Linked DNA regions of Homo sapiens: region 1 is linked to region 2. Evidence: fine-mapped expression QTL. A gene starts in region 2. The other region holds a variant in brackets. All regions are shown on one strand. Distances are from middle to middle.

Region 1 (2,904 bases), 31 kb before region 2:
ACAGCGGGACTCGGTCTCAAAAACAAACAAACAACCAAAAAAATTAGAGGGTACAAGCACATTTTTGTTACCTGGATATACTGTGTGGTGGTGAAGTCTGGGCTTTTAGTGCCTATCACCCAAATCGTGAACACTGGATCCAATAGCAAATTTCTTCTCCTTTGCCCCCTCCCTCCCTCCCACCCTCCCAGTCTCCAATGTCTGTTATTCCACTCTGTGGCCACAGGTGCACATTGCTTTGCTCCCACTTATTTTATTTTATTTTTTTTGAGATGGAGTCTCGCTCTGTCGCCCAGGCTGGAGTGCAGTGGCACGATCTCAGCTCACTGCAAGCTCCGCCTACCAGGTTCACGCCATTCTTTTGCCTCAGCCTCCAAAGTAGCTGGGACTACAGGCGCCCGCCACCACACCCGGCTAATTTTTTGTATTTTTAGTAGAGACAGGGTTTCACCATGTTAGCCAGGATGGTCTCTAGCTCCTCCTGACCTCGTGATCTGCCCGCCTTGGCCTCCCAAAGTGCTGGGATTACAGGCGTGAGCCACTGCGTCCGGCTGCTTTGCTCCCACTTATACATGAGAACATGCTTAAGAGGCTAAGGCAGGTAGATCACCTGAGGTCAGGAGTTCGAGACGAGCCTGACCAATATGGTGAAACCCCGTCTCTACTAAAAATATAAAAAATAGCTGGGCATGGTGGTGTGCACATGTAATTGCAGCTACTCAGGAGGCAGAGGCAGGAGAATCACTTGAACCCGGGAGGCAGAGGTTGCAGTGAGCCCAGATTGCGCCACTGCACTCCAGCCTGGGCAACAGAGCAAGACTCTGCCTCAAAAAAAAAAAAAAAAAAAAAAAAAGGCTGGGCACACTGGCTCATGCCTGTAATCCCAGCCTTTTGGGAGGCCAAGTCTGGCAGATCATGAGGTAAAAAGATTGAGACCATCCTGACAAACATGCTGAAACCCTGCCTCTACTAAAAATACAAAAATTAGCTGGGTGTGGTGGCACGTGCCTGTAGTTCCAGCTATGTGGGAGGCTGAGGCAGGAGAATTGCTTGGGAGGCTGAGGCAGGAGAATTGCTTGAACTCGGGAGGTGGAGGCTGCAGTGAGCCAAGATTGCACCGCTGCACTCCAGCCTGGTGACACAGTGAGACTCCATCTCAGTAAATAAATAAATAAGAACATGCAATCTTTGTCTTTCTGTGTTTGACTTGTTCCGCTTAAGATAATGGCCTCCAGTTCCATCCACATTGCTGCAAAAGACATGGTTTTGTGTTCTTTTTTATGGCTTCGTAGTATCCCACTGTGTATATATTCACCACATTTTCTTTATCCATCATCTGTTGATGGACACTTAGGTTGATTTCATGGCTTTGCTGTTGTGAACAGTGTTGCTGCGATGAACACACGAGTGCAGGTGTCTCTTTGATTAAATGACTTCTTTTCCTTTGGGTGGATGCCCAGTGGTGGGATTGCTGGTTGAATGGTAGTTCTAGTTTTAGTTCTTTGAGAAATCTCTATCCTGTTTTCCATAGAGCTAAATGATGTACTTATTGTTTACAATTCTCTGTTTCATCCGATGTCCATGGCTTTTGGTTTGCTCATTGCTGTATCTTCAGCACTTCGGACAGCGCCGGCATA[C/T]AGGCGGTGCTCTGCAAATGCTTGTTGATTGAGTTAACAAGGACAAGGAGAGTGTCTTATTTCCCTTGACTACTCCAGCACATGGTGGGTGGGCTCCATAGCCTTTGGTGGGACAATGAATGGATAGCCCTGTTCAAAGTAGCTCCCCAGACTCCTGGGCCCACATCTGAGATGCCACCATTGGCGAGTCACTTCTTTTGCCAGTGGCAGCTGCTGTTAACATGGAAATGCCCCAGTGGCCCTGTCAGTCATCACCACTCCAGTGCACATGGATCAGAGGCCCTGAGGCCAGGCTGGCAGGGAGTGGGGGTGTGGGTGGCAGGGGCACACAGCTCATCCAGAGCTTGCACAGGCAGGGATGCTGGCCAGCATGTGGGTCTAGCATTGGCAGGCGCTCAATAAATATTTTGTTGAGTGAATGTTGAATCATGCCAGGGTCTCCACCCCGTGGCCTTTCAGAGACTCCACCCTCTATACCCTGGGAATTGAGGAACTGCTGTCTGGGGCCCTTCCCCAGGACTTGTGCCAGGAAATCTTCACCCAGCTCCTCAGGGCTTCCCCCTGCTCCTACCAGGTCCTTCTCCTCGGGGCTCTCTTCCTGGCCACCCTGTCTCAGGGATAGCGGCATCTTGGGCAGGGCCCATGGCTACCCTTGGGTATCCAGGGCAGTGAGCTGGCTCTTCAGAAAGGCAGAAAAGCTGGAATGGAGAGGAAACCTGGGCGGGAGGCAGAGAGGGAGGCTGGAGTGGTCGGTCCCCAGCCACTTGCAGACTTGCTTCTTCCACACTCATTTATACATTCAACAAACACTCGCTGAGCCCCAGGGTGCAGCAGGCACTGAATATGATCCTGGGGGTCCACAGGGAGCCCCCCTGCCCACACTGTTTCCCCAGCACCCAGCTTCACAGTGGCCCTCTAGGGTCCAAGCCACCGCCTGGTCCCATGGTTCTGTGCCCACCTCCCGGACACCTCCCTGTCATCCGTCATCTGCCTCCCACCCCTAGGAGGTCATGTGCTTCCTGAGCACAGGACCTGCGTCTTATTCATCACATGTGTCCTGGTGCCCACCAGGGCCTGACATACAGCAGGTACTCAATATATGTTTGCTGGGTGAGCTGGAGAGGCCACCCACCTTATTCCAGAAGGCAGTGGGGTGGGGCGCAGGAGGGCCCTGGACGCCCTGGGTGCAGAGCTGAGCGGGGGACAGTGAGTAGGGTTGGGGGAGCCCAGCAGAAATTTCTGCTGCAGTGCTGCTGCTGCTCAGAGA
Region 2 (2,904 bases):
TACCCCGGAGGAAAGCTTGGAAGGCGACAAAGACTTTTGTGATGTATTCGCCTGGCTGCAGGGTGACTTCCTGGGTATTCCCACCTAAGGCTCCCAGTTTCACGTCCCAGGAGTCTCCAAGTTTCACCTGGACACTGGGAGAGAGGCAAAGCTTTGGACGTCCAGATCTGGGATGGCCCAGCACATCCCGGGTCCTCAGCGCCCCCATCCTCCTTCCCGGGATGCAGAGAGTCCAGCACCATCAGACTTTGGGTCCCTGACACAGACTCACTGGTCACCAACCCTGATTCTACCACTTTTGGGCCCTGTGATCTTGAGCTCGTTACCCAGCCTCTCCGGACTCAGTTTCCCCGTCTGCAAAGTGGGTGTGACTTTTGGGAGGAGTCACTGAGATCCTGGTGAGGAGAGCTGCGTGCAGCGCCAGGTCTCCGTGACCCAGAAGGCACCAGCTGCCGTCACTGTGGCCCACATATGAGCTGCCTCTGGCCGAGCCTGGACCTCCCGAGCCTTAGTCACTCCAAGCAGAGCAGCTCACAGGCCGAGGGGCAGGTGACTTCCCACACTCGCCAGCGCTTCCCTGACGGGGCTCATCTTCACCCCTCCCTCACCCTGGTGCTCTCCCAGGATGCACCCCTCCGGCTCGCCCCGCCCACACTCTGTCTCCTCTGCTATTGGGCTTCTCTCCCCTCTCCCAGGACCCCAGAACTTCTAAATGCAGGGCAAAAATCCATCCCAGACCTCCAGCAGAGACACTTCGATATTAAGGAAATGGCCCTGGACTTCTGCCTCTAACACTTCTGCGACTCATATTCAGTCAGTGGTCCACTCTGACCCTTACCTCCTGTCTTCTTTGACAGTAATCGGACAGACTTTCCCCTGACTTTCCTATCAGGCATGGGGACAGAGGGGCCATTTTTGGTTGAGTTGAGCTTGGGTTGAAGGGAGAAGGTAGGGAGGACGGTCTGACCGTCTCCGCTCCAGCCAGGAAGCATCAGCGGGAGCCAGGAAGCATCGACAGTAGCCAGGCATGTGTGGCAAAAGTGGCCACGGGTGCTTACCCCCTGCCCTGAGTTCCTGAAACTGTGGGATGGGAGGGGACATGGCGCTGGGCCCATGACCATAGCCCTACTCACCTTTTCACCAGGAGAAGACCTACAGACACCCGCAGCCCTGTGATTTCATGGTCGTAGTCTTCAGTGGTGCTGAAATACTTGCCTCCTCCAGGGCCATACATCTCTGAAGAAAAGAGAGACCCAAAGGGAAGAAAATCCCCATGCGGTGATATGGGGGTGACCTCTGCCAGAACAGGGGACCCCACCCCTCCAGGCAGACAGGATGGTTCTGTGACCAGAGTTAGTCTGGGACAAGGGCCGGGTGAGTCCCTGGCTCTCCTGGAGGGAGGCAGGGGAGATTGAGGGCAGACCCCACTGACTTACTCCCTGCCCAGGTGGGGCCCCCCAGGAGGGCAAGCGTGAGCAGCAGCAGCATGGCCTCTGGCCGGTGCATCCCAGGGCTCTGTGGGAAGAAGAGAGGCCTCCTGACTCCAAAGCAAGGGCCAGTGTGACCTTGCCGGGCCCCACCCATGGAGCCAAGCACCTTACCTCGCCTGTGACTGGGCGTCTGGTTGTGCCGGGCACCCTCCACATCGCCTTTATACTCTCCTGGGCCCCCTGGGCCCCCATCCAGAAGGAAGAAGCGAGGGGCCGCCAGGGGAACAGGAAGGAGCTGGCCGTGGGGCTCTTCCTGGGGGAAGGCCCAGGGCCGGCCTTGGGGAGGCTCCCGGATGTGCAGTATTTGCTGTCTTGGCTCTGCAGCCTACATAAACGAAGCTGAGAACAGTGACAGGCATTTCACAGTTATCTCTGGGATCTCTCCAGTCAGCACTGGCACCGACTTGAATGGCAGAGGTGGGGAGAGGCTGGCTTATCCAGCGCAGCCTGATGGCTTCCACCTGAGGGTGGCGGGTCAAGGGTCCACAGAAGCTCCGTGGGGCCCACTCCTGCCGTGGGCGACCTGGAGTCAGGGCCTCCTTCGGACTCAGGCAGCACCTGGTGCCTGGCAGCCTTCCTGGGACCCAGGCCGAGCTCGACGCGGGCCCTGAGAGAGCCTGAATGGATCACCCAGCCCTTTGTGTCCTGTGCCCTGTGCGGCAGGTGCACCAGGCACTGGCCCTCAAGGCACTGCCCTTAGAGGCTGCCCGGGTCTCTCCTCTGTGCTGTATCTGGGTGGAGCAGGTATGAGCCAGTGTTCAGGGACTCAGAGGCCATGGGAGGGAAGGACACCAAAGGTGCAGTCCATGCCACGATGGGAGGCAGAGGGCCTGGGGAGGGCGACCCCCCAGGCCGGTCCTTCCGAGGTGTCGGCCCTCATCTGGGCGGGAACTGGCGCTTCTCCAGGGCTCGGTCCCCGGGGCCCTGCTGGTTTTCTGTCTCACTCCTTTCCCCCTCAGCCCCTCTTGTCAGGGAGGCCTGTGCAGGCGGATGCCTGTGGGCAGAACGCCATCACCCTCAGACGCCAGCTGAGAAAAGCTCGTGTTCGGAGATGTCTCATCCCAAGGACCCTGAAGGACCCAGGGCACTGGGAAGGAACTGGAGTCTGCAGAAGAGTTGGGGTGTCGGATAAGGATCAGGGGAGAAGAGATAAAGGCCGTCAGATGCCCAAGCGAGGCGGGAACTAGGGGACAGATTGCAGCTCAAGCGCAGTTCCATGCGTGTCCTCAGGACACCTCTTGTGTGTGTTCCAGGGACTGAAGCTCCTCAGGGCCTGTGACCGCTGGGAACAGCCACAGGGCTGTGATCACCAACACAGGACCCTGGAGCCAGACGTGGGTCCAGCCGGGCTTCCTGACGTAGCGGGGCTGGGATCTGCGGGCTCTTGCTTCACCTCTCTGGGCCTCTGTTCTGC

Evidence for each region.
Region 1: its variant is fine-mapped to the expression of ZG16B in whole blood (INTERVAL, PIP 0.96).

The regions. Positions count from the first base shown.
Region 1 is chr16:2,860,091-2,862,994 of GRCh38, reverse strand. No RefSeq gene overlaps it. Among named protein-coding and RNA genes, the nearest start is that of PRSS22, 3.4 kb to the right of the region's middle. The variant C/T (reference allele first, on the strand shown) is at 1,638.
Region 2 is chr16:2,829,026-2,831,929 of GRCh38, reverse strand. ZG16B (zymogen granule protein 16B) reads right to left here and starts at 1,627. Exons shown (of 4, transcript NM_145252.3): 1 at 1,602-1,627; 2 at 1,437-1,515; 3 at 1,134-1,236; 4 at 1-134. The coding sequence starts at 1,488.